Linked DNA regions of Homo sapiens: region 2 is linked to region 1. The links come from fine-mapping of genetic effects on gene expression. Tissue or cell type: whole blood. Region 1 holds a variant in brackets; the other region holds the start of a gene. All regions are shown on one strand. Distances are from middle to middle.

Evidence for each region. PIP is the estimated chance that this variant, and not a neighbour inherited with it, causes the effect.
Region 2: APEH starts here. The variant in region 1 is fine-mapped to the expression of APEH in whole blood (TOPMed, PIP above 0.99).

The regions. Positions count from the first base shown.
Region 1 is chr3:49,344,554-49,352,621 of GRCh38, reverse strand. No RefSeq gene overlaps it. Among named protein-coding and RNA genes, the nearest start is that of USP4, 8.5 kb to the right of the region's middle. RefSeq lists enhancers at 83-162, 2,676-2,820, 6,908-6,997, 7,088-7,207, a cis regulatory region at 2,739-2,756 and a silencer at 3,412-3,706. The variant T/A (reference allele first, on the strand shown) is at 4,638.
Region 2 is chr3:49,671,094-49,679,161 of GRCh38, reverse strand. APEH (acylaminoacyl-peptide hydrolase) reads right to left here and starts at 4,811. Exons shown (of 22, transcript NM_001640.4): 1 at 4,749-4,811; 2 at 4,541-4,673; 3 at 3,853-3,979; 4 at 3,375-3,468; 5 at 3,196-3,271; 6 at 2,943-3,106; 7 at 2,647-2,784; 8 at 2,462-2,553; 9 at 2,345-2,385; 10 at 2,138-2,259; 11 at 1,529-1,589; 12 at 213-310. The coding sequence starts at 4,760. BSN (bassoon presynaptic cytomatrix protein) reads right to left here. Exons shown (of 12, transcript NM_003458.4): 12 at 7,613-8,068. RefSeq lists a silencer at 4,517-5,126.

The sequences.
Region 1 (8,068 bases):
GCCACACTCTCTGGTTAGGCTACAGGATAGGAACCCAGAACTTTCCAATAAACTCCAACTTCTCTCCAGGATGCCTGGTGATTGACCCCTCCTTGCCCCATGCCACCCCCACCATCTCAGTTTATGCCTTGGACTACGAGTGAAGGGAACTTTTTTTGGTTTCCCCTGAAATTACTCAGCTTCAGTAAAGGGAACTTCTGAACTCCCAGTATGCCTGATCCTGGCTGGAGAACATTTCTCCTCAGACTTTAAGCTGTATGCCTCCTCTCTCAACTAGAAGTCATTTCTTTCTTTTTTTTTTTTTGACAGGGAGTCTCGCTCTATTGCCCAGGCTGGAATGCAGTGGTGCAATTTCAGCTCACTCCAACCTGTCTCCCGGGTTCAAGCAATTCTCCTGCCTCAGCCTCCTGAGTACCCGAGACTAATTTTTTTGTATTTTTAGTAGAGGCAGGGTTTCACCATGTTGGCCAGGCTGGTCTTGGACTCCTGACTTCAAATGATCCACCCACCTGGGCCTCCCAAAGTGCTGGGATTACAGGCGTGAGCCACCATGCCCGGCCAGTCCTTTCTAACTCTCTCTTCTCCAGGAAGTTTCAGAGTAAAGCCAGTTAAGACTTCACTGTCTTCCCCCAACACACACAGACACACTCTCACACATACACATTCTTTTCATTCAACCATGCAACTGCTGCTGCTCTGACTGGTACCCACCCCACCCCATTGTGAATCAGCAGCTCAAATAAACAAGTAAAAGAGTAGAAATCACATTCAGCCTATGTGAAGTCCTGGCTTTAAAAGCAGAAATGGCTGCAGAGCATTGCTTGCACAGAAAACACATACAGCATTTAGGCCACTGACCTAGGTTCAGAAACTTCCATTTCAGCAGTTCTTACAGAAGGGCTGCTTTTGGGGTTTTTTTTCAAACATTAAATCTGATAAAATTAGGTCAGGCATTTCTTGCACAATTAGCAGTTGATCAAATGACTTCCTTATTCTGACTCAACGTAGTCCTAAAAACAACATTTAAAACAAGTTTATTTTCAGGCTCAGTGCAGTGGCTCACACCTATAATCCAAGCACTTTGGGAGGCTAAGGTGGGCAGATTGTTTGAGCTCAGGAGTTTGAGAACAGCCTGGGCAACATGGCGAAACACTGTTTCTACAAAAAAATACTGGCCAGGCAAGGTGGCTCATGCTTGTAATCCCAGCACTTTGGGAGGAAAAGGCGGGTGGATCATGAGGTCAGGAGTCCAGCCAATATGGTGAAACCCCGTCTCTACTAAAAATACGAAAATAAGCTGGGCATGGTGGTGTGCACCTATAGTCCCAGCTGCTCCAGAGGCTGAGGCAGGAGAATCGCTTAAACCTGGGAGGTGGAGGTTGCAGTGAGCTGAGATTGGGCCACTGCACTCCAGCCTGGGTAACAGAGCAAGACTCTGTCTCAAAAAAAAAAAAAAAAAAAAAAAGAGCCAAGCTTTGTGGCACATGACTGTGGTACCAGCCAGCTACTTGGGCAGCTGAGGTCAGAACATTGCTTAAGCCCAGGAGATCGAGGCTGCAGTGAGCTGATTGCGCCACTGTACTCCAGCCTGGAAGACAGAGTGAGACCCTGTCTCAAAATAAATAAAACAAGTTTATTTTCAGAAAAGCATTCCTGGCCTGATAAGTCTAATAAATCTCTTACATTTTAACTTTTGGATAAGATAGAGTAAAAAGTACTGGCTAAAGATCTCCCCAAGGGGCCAGGCATGGTTGCATGTACCTGTAGTCCCATCTACTCAGGAGGCTGAGGTGGGGGGAATCACTTGAGCCCAGAGGGTCAAGGCTGCAGTGAACTGAGATTGTGCCACTTCACTCCAGCCTGTGCGACTCCAGCCTGGGCTGTCTCAAAATAAACAAACAAAAAACCCCCCAAAAAACCAACCTGGCCAACATGGTGAAACCTTGTCTCTACCAAAAAATACAAAAATTAGACGAGTGTGAGGCGGGCGGATCATTTGAGGTCAGGAGTTTGAGATCAGCCTGGCCAACATGGTCAAACCCTATCTCTACTAAGAATACAAAAATTAGCTGGGCATAGTGGTGCCCTCCTGTAATCCCAGCTACTTGGGAGGCTGAGGTAGGAGAATTGCTTGAACCTGGGAGATCGAGGTTGCAGAAGCCAAGATTGTGCCACTGCACTCCAGTCTAGGTGACAGAGTGAGACTCCATCTCAAAAACAGAAACAAAATTAGTCGCACATGGTGGCGTGTGCCTGTAGTCCCAGCTACTTGGGAGGCTGAGGTGGGTGACTCGCTTGAACCCAGGAGGCGGAGGTTGCAGTGAGCTGAGATTGTGCCACTGCCCTCCAGCCTGGGCAACAGAGACAGACCCTGTCTCAAAAAAAAAAAAAAATTTTTTTCCCAAGAAAACACAGCATGGGTTTATAAAGAGCAGGCCATGATCCCTATCAGAGTACTCTGAATTGACATGTTTTTGTTACTGCACTCACGAAGTAAGCGGGAAGAGTATGCATTCACATACAGGTGTGACACACCTGGGCGGGCACTGAAATAAAGCCCAGCTCCAGCCAGCCACAGAGATTAATGGGTATCTGCCTCACATCAGACACTGACTGATTGGGAGCTGAGGGGGACAAATGTCAGAAGTCCTTGTCCAAGAAATGAGGTCTCATAGGCCTTGGCCCTGAAATGGTGTAATTCTCACTGCCTCTCAGAGAGGCTGTGTACAGAGACATTGCTTATCTCTACTCAACAGCCATTCCCAAGTCCTTCCTCCTGGCTGGCTGGCAGAATCTACTTTCCTGCTGTAAAGATAGGGGCAGGTGACCTAATCTTGGCTATGAAGAGATGCAGAGGCTCCTGGGAAAGCCCCCATGATCCCAGGAAACAGGATCTTGTTTCCTCTCTCCCTTCTCACTGGTGGGTGTTGTTGAGGGTACCCAAAATTCTGGGAGCAAGGCAGCCACGTTGGAGCTTTGAAGGCAAAGAACTAGAAGGCCCCAGATAAACAAACTGATGTCTTTCAGCTTTGACCTTCCCAAGAACTCAACTCCAGACGTGTCATGTGAAAAAACAAGAACCACCAAATAGGTGGGCCAATTGCTGCTGGGGATTCTGTTAGTTGCATCTAGAAGCATTGAGACTGACATGACATGACAGTGGTGTACTGGGCAGGGGTGCTAGGCAACTTGTTGGCCCTAACTGGCTGGCAGAATATTTTCCTAGCCAGCCTTACCTGTTGTAAATGTAAGGGCAGGTGACCTGATCTTGGCTGTGAAGAGACGCAGAGGCTCCTGGGAGACCCACTTTTAGTGCCCCTCACAGGTCCAGTGTAATTGTGGCCCTCAAGACCAGTAGAGGAGACCACAAAGCAAGCCCACTTGATCCAAATTCCTAGAGCTCTAGCAGCATTCAGGAACACATGTAGCTTACCCTCAGTGGTGTCCTACAGTTCTGAAGACCACCTGGCTTCATAGGGAAGCAAGTGAAGGGAATCTAAATCTCCCTGCAGCAGAATACCCCAGTCACCTTTGTCCCCAGCACATGACTGTGTGTGTGTGCATGTACATGTGAGTGAATCTAAAGTCCAGGTCTCATGCCAGGTACAGTGGCTCACGCCTATAATCCCAGCACTTTGGGAGGCCGAGGCAGGTGGATCACCTGAGGTAAGAAGTTCAAGACCAGTCTGGCCAACATCCAACATGGCAAAACCACATATCTTTTTCTTTTCTTTTTCTTTTTTTTTTTTGGAGTTTTGCTCTTGTTGCACAGGCTGGAGTGCAGTGGTGTGATCTCGTCTCACTGCAACCTCCACCTCCCAGGTTCAAGTGATTCTCCTGACTCAGGCTCCTGAGTAGCTGGGATTACAGGCGTCTGCCACCATGCCTGGCTAATTTTTTGTGTTTTTAGTAGAGATGGAATTTCACTATGTTGGCCAGGCTGGTCTTGAACTCCTGACTTCAGGTGATCCACCCGCCTCATCCTCCCAAAGTTATAGGGTTACAGGCGTGAGCCACCACGCCTGGCCTGGCGAAACCACATCTCTACAAAAAATACAAAAAAAAATTAGCTGTGTGTGGTGGCGCACGCCTGTAGTCCCCAGCTACTGGGGAGGCCGAGGCATGAGAATTGCTTGAACCCAGGAAGTGGAGGTTGCAGCGAGCCGAGATTGTGCCACTGCACTACAACCTGCGTGACAAAGTGAGACTCTGTCAAACACACACAAAAAAAAGTAATAAAAAAAATAGGCCGGGCATGGTGGCTCACGCCTGTAATCCCAGCACTTTGAGAGGCTGAGGCCGGCAGATCACCAGGTCAGGAGATCGAGACCATCTTGGCTAACATGGTGAAACCCCATCTCTACTAAACAAAATACAAAAAATGAGCCGGGCGTGGTGGCGGGAGCCTGTAGTCCCAGCTCCTCGGGAGGCTGAGGCAGGAGAATGGCAGGAGCCTGCGAGGCGGAGCTTGCAGTGAGCAGAGATGGCGCCACTGCACTCCAGCCTGGGCAACAGAGCGAGACTCTGTCTCAAAAAAAATAAATAAATAAAAAAATAAAGTCGGCTGTGTGGGGTGGCTCACGCCTGTAATCCCAGCACTTTGGGAGGCCGAGGCGGGCAGATCATGAGGTCAGGAG[T/A]TCAAGGCCAACCTGGCTAACACAGTGAAACCCTATCTCTACTAAAAATACAAAAAAAAAAAAAAAATTAGCTGGGCGTGGTGTCAGGTGCCTGTAGTCCCAGCTACTCAGGAGGCTGAGGCAGGAGAATGGCATGAACCCGGGAGGCGGAGCTTACAGTGAGCCAAGATTGCGCCACTGTGCTCCAGCCTGGGTGACAGAGTGAGACTCTGTCTTAAAAAAATAAATAAAAATAAAAAATAAAGTCCTGGTCTCCTGAGCATCCTTTGTGGATGTCATCATATACCCCCAAAGGCCAAAAGGAATATTAAGTATGCCTTTGCTTTCTACACTAGTTGCTTAAGTTTCCTTCCCAGGGAAGTATCTGCAAGCATGACCCTTCATGTTCTTGTGACACTTTTTTTTTTTTGAGGCAGAGTTTTGCTCTGTTGCCCAGGCTGGAGTGCAGTGGCTCGATCTCGGCTCACTGCAAGCTCTGCCTCCCGGGTTCACACCATTCTCCTGCCTCAGCCTCCCAAGTAGCTGGGACTACAGGTGTCCACCACCACACCGGGCTAATTTTTTTGTATTTTTAGTAGAGATAGGGTTTCACGGTGTTAGCCAGGACGGTCTTGATCTCCTAACCTCGTGATCTGCCCACCTCAGCCTCCCAAAGTGCTGGGATTCCAGGCGTGAGCCACTGCACCCGGCCCCTGTGACACTTTTACCACACAACATACAATACTGTATTACATATGTAACCATCCTTCATCCCTAACCACACTGTGAACCCTGGAGGGTAGGGACCATGAGCACATAATACTCAAGTACTATTAGTCCAGTGAAGAAATGACTAATAGCCGGATCATTCTTTCTTTCATTTATGCAAGAAATGCCTACTGAGAATTCGCACTGTGGAAAGGGCAAAGGATACACGCAAATTAACGTTAAATACTGGTTCATGGTTAAGACTGTGATGGTAATAGAATTACAGGAGGAAGACAAGACACTGGCGGCACCTGGGCCCAGGCTGCCACACCCTCTGCCCGAAGAGGGCTGGCCATCAACACAAGTGGCATAACCAGAATGGAATCTGTCCATTGGCACAACTCCTCCATATAAAAAAAGTGATCCCACTTCCTCTCTGTGAGACTTGTTCAGTTTTTTGCCTCTATTATCTTCTGCAAGAACCTAATCCTTATATAACAGAGGTTAGAAATCACTGAGAAGACATTTAATTCTTCTAAAGTGTGCTTCTAGAATCTTTTTCTTTTCACAGTCCCCTGGGCAGGTTAAGGAGGCACAGGTGAGAAGGAACCAAAAATATTTCTCCCCTGTTGCCACCTCCAATTAAAATATGTCTAATATTTGTGAATACTGCCACGTGTGCTCTGTTAGTGCTGGCCAAGTGTGGACCAAGAATAACTTGGGAGAGCCAAGTCCTATCAGGTGTAAAGAAAACTGTGGTAGCAGCTAAGACAAAAACCTTATGATTTGGAATAAAATAAAGCTTAAAGGCCAGGCGTGGTAGTTCAAGCCTGTAATCCAAGCACTTTGGGAGGCCGAGGCGGGTGGATCACCTGAGGTCAGGAGTTCAGGAACAGCCTGGCCAACATGGTGAAACCCCGTTTCTACTAAAAATACAAAAATCACCTGGGCGTGGTGGCCGGTGCCTGTAATCCCAGCTACTAGGGAGGCTGAGGCAGGAGAATCCCTTGAACCCAGGAGGCGGAGGTGGCAGTGAGCGGAGATTGCGCCACTGCATTCCAGGCTGGGTGACAGACTAAGACCTTGTTTCAAAAAAAAAAAAAAAAAAAAAGCATAAAGTTCACACACCCAGACATTATTAATCTTTTTTTTTGAGACGGAGTTTCGCTCTTGTTGCCCAGGCTGGAGTGCAGTGGTGCAATCTTGGCTCACTGCAACCTCCGCCTCCTGGGTTCAAACTATTCTCTTGCCTCAGCCTCCCAAGTAGGTGGGGCTACAGGAATGCACTACCATGCCCAGATAATTCTGTATTTTCAATAGAGATGGGGTTTCACCATGTTGGTCAAGCTGGTCTCAAACTCCTGACCTCAGGTGAACCACCTGCCTCGGCCTCCCAAAGTACTGGGATTACAGGTGTGAGCCACCGTGCCCGGCCTGACATTATGAATCTTTTTTTTTTTTTTTTTTTTTGAGATAGGGTCTCGCTCTGTCACCCAGGCTGGAGTGCAGTGGCGCAATCTTGGCTCAGTGCCAGCTCCGCCTCCCGGGTTCATGCCATTCTCCTGCCTCAGCCTCCTGAGTAGCTGGGACTACAGGCACCCACCACCACGCCCGGCTAATTTTTTGTATTTTTAGTAGAGACGGGGTTTCACTGTGTTAGCCAGGATGATCTCGATCTCCTGACCTCGTGATCCGCCCTTCTCGGCCTTCCAAAGTGCTGGGATTACAAGCGTAAGCCACCGCGCCCGGCCAACATTATGAATCTTTAATTAGACATCACAGTCCAAGATCAACTAGTATGTGACCAATAAGCCAGGTTTTCTTCTAGCTCCCTTCCTGGTTTCTCTTCTGTTCTTGTGGCCCAAGGTCCTCTGGTAATGGATGGATTGTCCACTTCTGGGATCTTGGTGTCCTACCGGGCCTATGGTTCTCTCTAGGATAAAGTGGCTCAACATAGAACACAGCTCTGGTGCCAAGATGTCTCTGAGCTGAATCAGTCACCCTTGTCATTTCCTCCCAAGTCCCTAGGTCACTACCACAACAGGAACACGCAGGCAGATGTTCATTGTTTCCAGTTCTCTTTTTTGTTTTATTTTTGAGACAGGATCTTGCTCTGTCACCCAGGCTGGAGTGCAGTGGCACGATCATAGGATCACAGCTCTCTGCAACTTCAAACTCCTGGGCTAAAAAGATCCTCCCACCTTGGCCTACTTAATAGCTGGGATTACAGGTGCACGTCACCATGCCAGGCTAATTGTTTTATTTTAAATTTTTAAATTTTTTTTTCCTTTTTTTGAGATGAAGTTTCACTCTTGTTGCCCAGACTAGAGTGCAGTGGCGTGATCTTGGCTCACGGCAACCTCCGCCTCCTGGGTTCAAGTGATTCTCCTGCCTCAGCCTCCCAAGTAGCTGGGATTACAGGCGAGCACCACCATGCCCAGCTAATTTCTATGTTTTTAGTAGAGACTGGGTTTCACTAGGTTGGCCAGGCTGGTCTCAAATTCCTGACCTCAAGTGACCTGCCCACCTCAGCCTACCAAAGTGCTGGGATTGCAGGAGTGAGCCGTGCCTGGCCCTGGTTTTTTTGCCTCCTAAGTAGTTGTGACTACAGAATGAGATTCTGTCTCAAAAAACAAAACAAAACAAAAAACGGCTCAGCGTGGTGGCTCACACGTGTAATCTCAACACTTTGGGAGGCAGAGGTGGACAGAGTGCTTGAGCCCTGGGGAACAGGGCAGAAGTTG
Region 2 (8,068 bases), 330 kb before region 1:
GCCTCAGACGAAAAGGCCTGAGTTCTGCTGTGGTGCACCAGGGCAGCCAGTCCCCTCCAGGAGAAATGAGTCCAGGATGGGCAGGCAGGGTTTTAAGGGGCTGATGAGACTTTGTGGCTGGGCATTCCACCCAGGGGCATGCACATGCAACCCCCAGGGCTCCTGGGGGTTGACCACAGGGGCTGCCCCTCAACACAATCAGCGTCCCTCACCTGCCGGCTGCGCTGAGCCGAGTCAAAGACCACTCTCTGGCTGTCAGCTGACCAGCATCCCAAAGGCAGAAGGCTGCAGTAGATCCCAGAGAAGTTCTCTGTAAAGATAGGAGGGCTGAGGCTGCATCCAGGAGTGGAGGTAGGGAGGGTAGTCTACAAGGAAGGCTAGGGTACTGGGGAATTCACCCAGGGCCCTACTCAGGCACCAGTCAGGCCCCTGCAGCTTGTAGCACACATGGGGGCACGCTACGCGATGAGGAGCTGCCTGAGTAGGTGGCTGAGGGGCAGAGGCCTCTTGGGACCCAGAGAGGACCCAGAGAGGCAGAGCTCAAGAGCTCCAGAGAGAAACCATGGGTGCTCAGAGGAAAAGCACTTGCTCTCCTGAGTAATTCCAGTTGAACCCAGGTAGGTACCAGGTGCTTTAACCAAGATATCATCTGTCCGTCTTATCTCCACTGTGGTGCTTAGCACAGCGCTTGGCACAGGGGGCTCAGTAAATCCTACCCTTTAATATCATCACTCACTTAACACTCACTATGATCCTATGAGGCAGGCAGACACAATCACCCCTCCATGAAGAAATGGGAGCTCAGGGAGGCCAGGACCCTGTCTGAGGACACAGCTAATTTAGGGCAGAGCTGGGATTCATACTAGGTTCCCACCACTGCATCCCTGCAACCCAAAGAGAAGACAAAGAGGCTATCCCTTGTCCACTGAACTCCTGGAACTGACCGGGTGGCCTGAGAAAACAAGAGACTCATCCTTGAGATGGTCCAGGAGGATCCAAGCAGAGCTATCAACACTCGAGACGGGAGCCTCTCAGCCAAGAGCCACCCTCCTGAAGACCCAGCTGACTTCAGGGCTTAGACTGGACAAAGGTTGCTGGGGTTAGGATGGTGGATGGGATAATATCATGCCCTCGGGTCCAGAGCCTCTCGAGTGTGACATTCCAACCTAGTGCACTTCCTGAGACCCACTTGAAGGAGTCATGGTTTTGGTTTGAACCAGCCATTGGAAAAATAAGAAAACTCTAATTATGACCTGCAGCACAGGAAATAATACATCATCAACTTGGGCCACTCTGATCTCAGCTTGGTCCTACCACTCCTTGCTATTGAACTGTTCCCTACGGTGACAGCCCCGCTCCCTATGGTGACAGCCCCGCTCCCTGAGGATGCTGGGCATAAGGCTGGCCCAGCAGGGAGGTAGGGCCCTCAGAAGGAACCTAGGAAAGAAGAACGGGGCAGGGATGCAACAGACGGCAGGAAAGCAGAGCTACAGGCCCCACTGCACCCACCCAGCCAGGTATGCCTTACCTCCCAGCTGCCGAGGCACAACATCTACCACCACTGAGGTAACCTTGGTATACCAGTCATACTGCAAGAGAACACAATGGTCAGGTCCAGTAGGGGACAGGCAGTTCCCTTAGGGCACAGTGCCCTGTGCCTATCCCCTTTTGCCTCAGGTAGCCCCAGGAGATGGGGGAACTGGAATAAGCCTGATGTATCTCTTTTCTGGTGACCTGGACCAGATGCCCAAGGGGCCTCAGATAGGCATGTCCCTCTGACTTTTACCAGGGGCCCAGAGCTCTTCCTGGGGAGGGTCTGGGATTGTGTAACTCCCCACTATATCCCAGCCCCTTGCAGAGCCTGGCTACATGCAGTTGAGAGCCAAGGGGAGGAGCATTCTTGCAGACGAGCATTCTCTCAAGGTGGAATGCCCCAACAGTGCAAAGCTCTCCATGGCAGCACTCTCAACCTCTAGGCCCTCCTTGAGAGGACAGGCAGAACTCACACCGCTGCTGCATTGAGGACAGAAGGGCACCTACTGAGGGCCTATGGGGAGATGATACTGGCCCTTCAGCTCTCATCCACCATCCCATCTTCTTGCTGACCACCCTCCCATCCCTGCCACCTCCAGCTCACCAGGCACAGCTGGCTGCATTGGTGATGGGGGATCAGAGATGGGTACTGCAGGTAGACAATGCGACATTGGTCTGGGCTCAGCCGGGGAGAAGAGACAGCCAGGGAGTCATCCGAGAGGAGCTCTGGGCCAGATGGAAACATGAGCATCACGCAGGCTGGCAGGGCCAACATGTGTCAGCAAAGCACAGGTGGGCATCAGCCACTTACCACACTTCCCCCCGATGAGGTCCACATAATACAGGGCTGACCTGGAACCACGAGACAGACACTCAGTCTCAAGGCCAGCTGGGCTGCAAGGCCCCTTGCCTTGCCCCACTCCCTCACCTGCGATTGGTGCAAAAGCGGATGCCCAACCGGAAGGGCTCATGCCACCAGCCCACAAACACCACACCAGCATCTCCAGGGGCCCAAAATGCCTGTAAACAGGATCAAAGGGCAGGAGTGAGCAAGGGGTGGTAGCTCAAGAAGGGTCCCAGACTCCAGGGGGGACACAGGCTGTTGCTGCTGACCTGTCCAGGGGACACATTCTCAGGGACCCCCTCAAGCACAGAGATGTTGCCACTCTCGACATCCAGCACGCAGAGCACAGGGATGCTTTTGGAAACCATGTTTTCTCCCCAGTCTTCATAAAACACAAACTGATCCCCCTGAGAACACAAGATACTCAATGCCCAGCCTGTCTATAGGACCTGCTCTGCTTCCTAAAAGCTAGTGCCTCCCCAGGTCTGACAGGCACAGTATGGGAAGGGAGCACACTGAGCCCCAGGGCTGCCCTGCCGGGCCTTCGTGGATTGACCACGAGCACCTTGATGGCTTGGTCTGGCTTCTTCAGCCTGGCTATCTCATCATCGCTGGCACTGACGTCCAAGGCTTTGGTCTGAAAGAAGGACTCGGCCTTGGGGCGCTTCTTCTCTGCCACATACAACAAGTGTGTCTCCGAGTGCGACCAGGACAGGCAGCCAAAGCAGTCTGGGTGCAGGGAGGGCCAATCAGGGGGGGCCCAGGGCTACGGCTACCCCTCCTGTCCACCCTGCCTGCTCACCAGCCAGATGCCTCACCATCCTCATAAACAGGCCCATGTTTCTCCAGCGCTGACAGGTTGAAGCTCTTGAGCTTCCGGTTCTTCTCCCAGACCTGAGGACATCTGGGCATTAGGCTGTTTGCCCGCTAACAGAGCCTTATCTGTGGGGCAGAGCCTCTCTCTTGTCACCCACTACCTGGTCCCATGCAGACTCACCTCCAGGAACTGCTTCTCTTCCCCAGGGCCCGTGCCTCCAGCCTTGCGCAGCACAGCTTTCATGGTGCCTGAAGGAGACTCTCTGCTCAGCAGTCTGTGGACATGGGGTAGCACAGGTCAGGATTATCTTGCAATAACCCCTTCCTGCTCCCTACTGGGCACACCTCTTAGGAGAGATTCTTGAGGCTCTGGCCCCACACCAGCTTCTGGAGCACCTCTAGCCCCACCTTGCCTTTCCTCCCTGAGGCAGAGACTCTACTCTCTGCAACTCCCCAGGCCACCATGGGCTCTAGTCCAGGCTGAGTTTGGAGCAAGCTTCCAGTGCTTATCAGGCCATGTCACCAGAAACTGAATGAGCTCCCAAGGGGGCAAGAACCTGGCTGCTGGCCTCCCTTCTAGGCACATGGTGAGCATTCATAAAAGGCTTGCATTGCGGACGGCTGTGGCCTTGCCCACAAGCTTCCTCCCTCAAACTTACTCCCCCCGGGTCTCCACACTGTTGCCTGCAGGTCCTGCAAACACCACTGAGTCCCCGTCATGGAACACCAGGTATTGGCGGCAGAATCGAATGTTCTCCATGCGTTCCAGGTCCCTCTGGGTCCACTCTGTGAGGGGAGGCATGAGACTGCTCACCTTGTCTTGGCTACTCCTGGCTACTGCCCCCAGCCCCACCTGACCCAGGAAGGCCTAGATCTATCTTCCCCAATCTCTCAATCTGTCTCCAGACACTGACACCCTGGCTGCAGGCTGGACAACACTTGGCCACAACCCTAGTCCAGGCCTCCAGAGCCTGAGCTGACAGCCTCTTTGAGAGAACCCCCTAGTAACCCCAGCATCCACCCTGGAATCTTGAGGGCAGCCTGGCATGTGTATGGGATGGCGTGTTGGTGGAGAGCCCTACAAGGTCCACGCCCTGAGCCCAGGTTTGACTTCTACCCCTACGCCGTCATCTCGTGCACTCATGGCCGCCATTCGATAACGCCCCGCACGCCCCCTCCCCCCCTCCACACACCTGTGTGCAGGGACCTGTGGGAGTGTAACCTCCAAGTCCAGGCCGGCTCCCTATATACCCTTACGCACTGTCAAGCAGCGAGCCCTCCACACCCCCTTCCTTCCCACCCCAGTGCGCGACCCCGTCGCCAGCCAGTTCCCCTTCGCACACACACCAGTGTGCACCGTCCGGTATTGGCCGCCGTACTGCGTGGTGACCTCCGGGCCCAGGCAGGCGGCGCTCAGCGCGGGCTGGCGGCTAAGGCCCCGATACAGAGCCGCCGCCTCCTCGGGCTCGCTCAGCAGCACCTGCGCAGGGGACACACCAGGGTCAGGCCCGGCCCGGGCTGCAGGGACCACGGGGACCGCGGGCCGAGCCCTCACCTGACGTTCCATAGTCTCCTCTCTGCCGCCGGGGCGAGGCGGGGCGTGCTCGCGCCCGGAAGTGAGGCTTCCGGGGGCGGAGCCTGGGACGGCCCGGGCTGTCTCCGCCCCTGCCCTGCGGCAATCTGTGAGGGGCGGGGCCTTCGGCTAATGGGTGAGGACCGTTGGCAGGGGGCGGGCCTTGACGGTGAGAGGACCCGGCCTGGGAGCGAGAAGTCCTGGGTGGGTGAGAGCAGGGGTCTCGCCAGGGGCGGACTAGCCAAGTGGGGGGCGGGGCCGTGGGCTGAGTCCTGGGCCTCTTACCGAGGGGCGAGGCGTTGGATCTCGGAGGAGAGGGGGCGGCCCTGTGGAAGCGGAACCCGGGAGCCCGGCTTCGGGGAGGGTAGAAGGGCCTACGAGAGAAGGGGTTGAGGGGGTGCTGCAAGGCGGAAGCAGCGCGGTCGGACGGGCATGGCCCAAGCACGCGAAGGGCGGGGCCCGAGGGGAATGGGACCAATGAGTCTTTGAGGATGAAGGGCAAGGCGGGCGGGTCCGGATTGGAGCCCTGCGAGGAATGTGGAGCCGGGAGCCTGTGAGCGTGAGCGTGAGCGTGAGCGTGAGCGTGAGCGTGAGGGTGAGGGTTGGGCGGGGCGGAGCCGGCCGCAGCGTGGATCTCCCGCGGCTCTGGGGCTGACTGTAGGGTTCCTTCGGGTCCACCACGAGGCCGACATTCACTACACAGTGCCAGGCCCTGCCCTGGAGGGAGTTCCACGCAGACGAAGAAGAGAAGGGCCAGGGTCCGGGCGGAGGGCGCGAAGCAAAGCCCTGGGGTGCGGGGCAGAGGGGCGGGTGCCAACTCTTAGGGTGCTGCCCGGACTTATCAGTCGCCAGGCCTGCCGCAAGAGCTATCTATCCCCGCAGCCTTTACCCAGCCTTCTCAGTGGCACCTTGTTGGGGACCGTGAGCTGGTGGGTCCCTGCCTTCCTCCCCAGGCCTCACCCTGAGCTCTTGGGTGTGAAAGGCCTGGTGGGCTCAGACTCCACCCAGGACCAGGGAGCTTCCTGTGGAAAAAACCTAGGCAGGCAGGTTCCCTGTGCACGTGGTACAGGATTGGCTGGGCTAAGGTGCCAACAGAGATCAGGAGAGGCTGGACAGTAAGGATGTTCCCTCCATATACCTGAGTCTGGCTGGTCTTCCACATTCAGGGCCCTGGCTCCCTGCTCCATGGCGTGCTTGTGATTGAGAGTCCACTTGTCTGGCCTGTAGCTTCCCCTTTCCCATCAGCCGCATCATTACTTACTCAAGATAACTAGTTAAGTAAAAAAAAAAAAAAAAAAAAAAAAAAAAGTCCCGGCCGGCCGGGCGCGGTGGCTCACGCCTGTAATCCCTGCACTTTGGAAGGCCGAGGCGGGCGGATCACGAGGTCAGGAGATCGAGACCATCCTGGCTAACACGGTGAAACCCTGTCTCTACTAAAAATACAAAAAATTAGCTGGGCATGGTGGCAGGCGCCTGTAGTCCCAGTTACTCGGGAGGCTGAGGCAGGAGAATGGTGTGAACCCGGGAGGCGGAGCTTGCAGTGAGCCGAGATCGCGCCACTGCACTCCATCCTGGGCGACAGCCAGAGTCCATCTTAAAAAAAAAAAAAAAAAAGTGCCAGGCGCGGTGGCTCACGCCTATAATCCTAGCACTTTGGGAGGCTGAGGCGGGTGGATCACCTGAGGCCAGGAGTTCGGGATCAGCTTGGCCAACATGGAGAAACCCTGTCTCTACTAAAAATACAAAAATTAGCCGGGCTGGGTGGCACGCGCCTGTAATCCCAGCTACTCGGGAGGCTGAGGCAGGAGAATCGCTTGAACCTGGGAAGTGGAGGTTGCAGTGAGCCGAGATCATGCCACTGCACTCCAGCCTGGGCAACAAGAGTGAAACTCCGTCTCAAGAAAAAAAAAAAAAAAGAGTCCCAACTTTCTGACGCCACTGCATTTGTCAGTATGTACAGGACTGTATCAAGGCCAGAAACAGGAGTAGAATGAGTGGCCCCAGCCACCAATTTGGGTGGAAAGATTGGAAAATAGGATGTTCATCAAGCATTGTTTATAATAGGAACACTGGGAACATAGTGCCTGTTCCTTAGATTGTGTGTGGTAGACTGGCTATGAACTAATGGTGTATCTCTCTGGAGGTTGAGCACTGGAAGACGAACATTTAAGTACCTGAAATAAACGTGGAAATAAACAGAAAGCTAGAAAACAGGATATATTGCACCTTCTGGCTTCTGTTTAAAATGAAGACTGGAACAACAAACAGGAAAGAAGGACACGCATCAAAATGTTAATTCTGGGGAGAGGGCCAGAGGTGAAGCTGGGATTCCTGTTTATCTGTGTTAAAAAAAAAAAAAAAAAAAAAAAAGGTCTAGCAACTCTGGGTGACTTCGGTAAGGAGGTACTCCTGACCATCTGAGGAAGGCCTAAGGTCTGGCAGCCGGTGAGAGTTTGGGGGTTGGAAAATTCGGAGCAAGGCAGAGAGGTGTAGGGCTTGTTGGCAGCACCAGGGGGCAGCACTTGTTCACTGCCTCCCTGGAACCAGGTCCCAGAAAGCTGTGTATGCAGCCAACACACCTGAAGGCCATGGAGGTGCTGTCCCTCAACAGCCTGCGCACTGACTGCCTGCTCCAGGTCCAAGCTTGGGACCTCCCCTTGGGCACCTTTGTGGAGGGCCCATTGTCTTTGGATGGCTTGGTGTGGACTCAGCCCCGTGCTGTGCCAGCACTTCTGCAACTTTGTCCATCCTTTTCCCTTTAACCATGGACAGGATTGTCGCAAATTTGGGGATTTGCTCCTTCAGCTAAGCCTTCCCACTTGAGAAACCATCCCAGAAACAGTCTGTAGGTTGTTTATATCAAGTCCTTTTATTCTGATACCACAGAATTACCTTGTCACAATACAGGGGGAGGGACACTGAAGTACCACGAGTTCTCACAGAGCACAGAAGGACAGCACACAATTCACAAGGTCATGTGGAGGACTCGGGTCATTGCACTTACAACTGTAAACTTGTTTGTTTGACTTTGTACAGCACTCTTCCCCCCTCAAATAAAGAAGGAGAGAAGGAAAGAAAGGGAGAGAGGGAGGAGGAAGGGGAAAGCAAAAACAAGACATGAAAGCTAGAGGAAAAGGTATTGAGTGGCCACCACTCTCCAGGGTAGTGCACTTGGAGAGAAGGAGCTGATTTGACCCCAGAAACTGAATGAGGCAGAAACACACACACACACACACACGCACGCACGCACGCACATACACACATGATCATGTGCATACACATACAATATCTCACGACTGCCA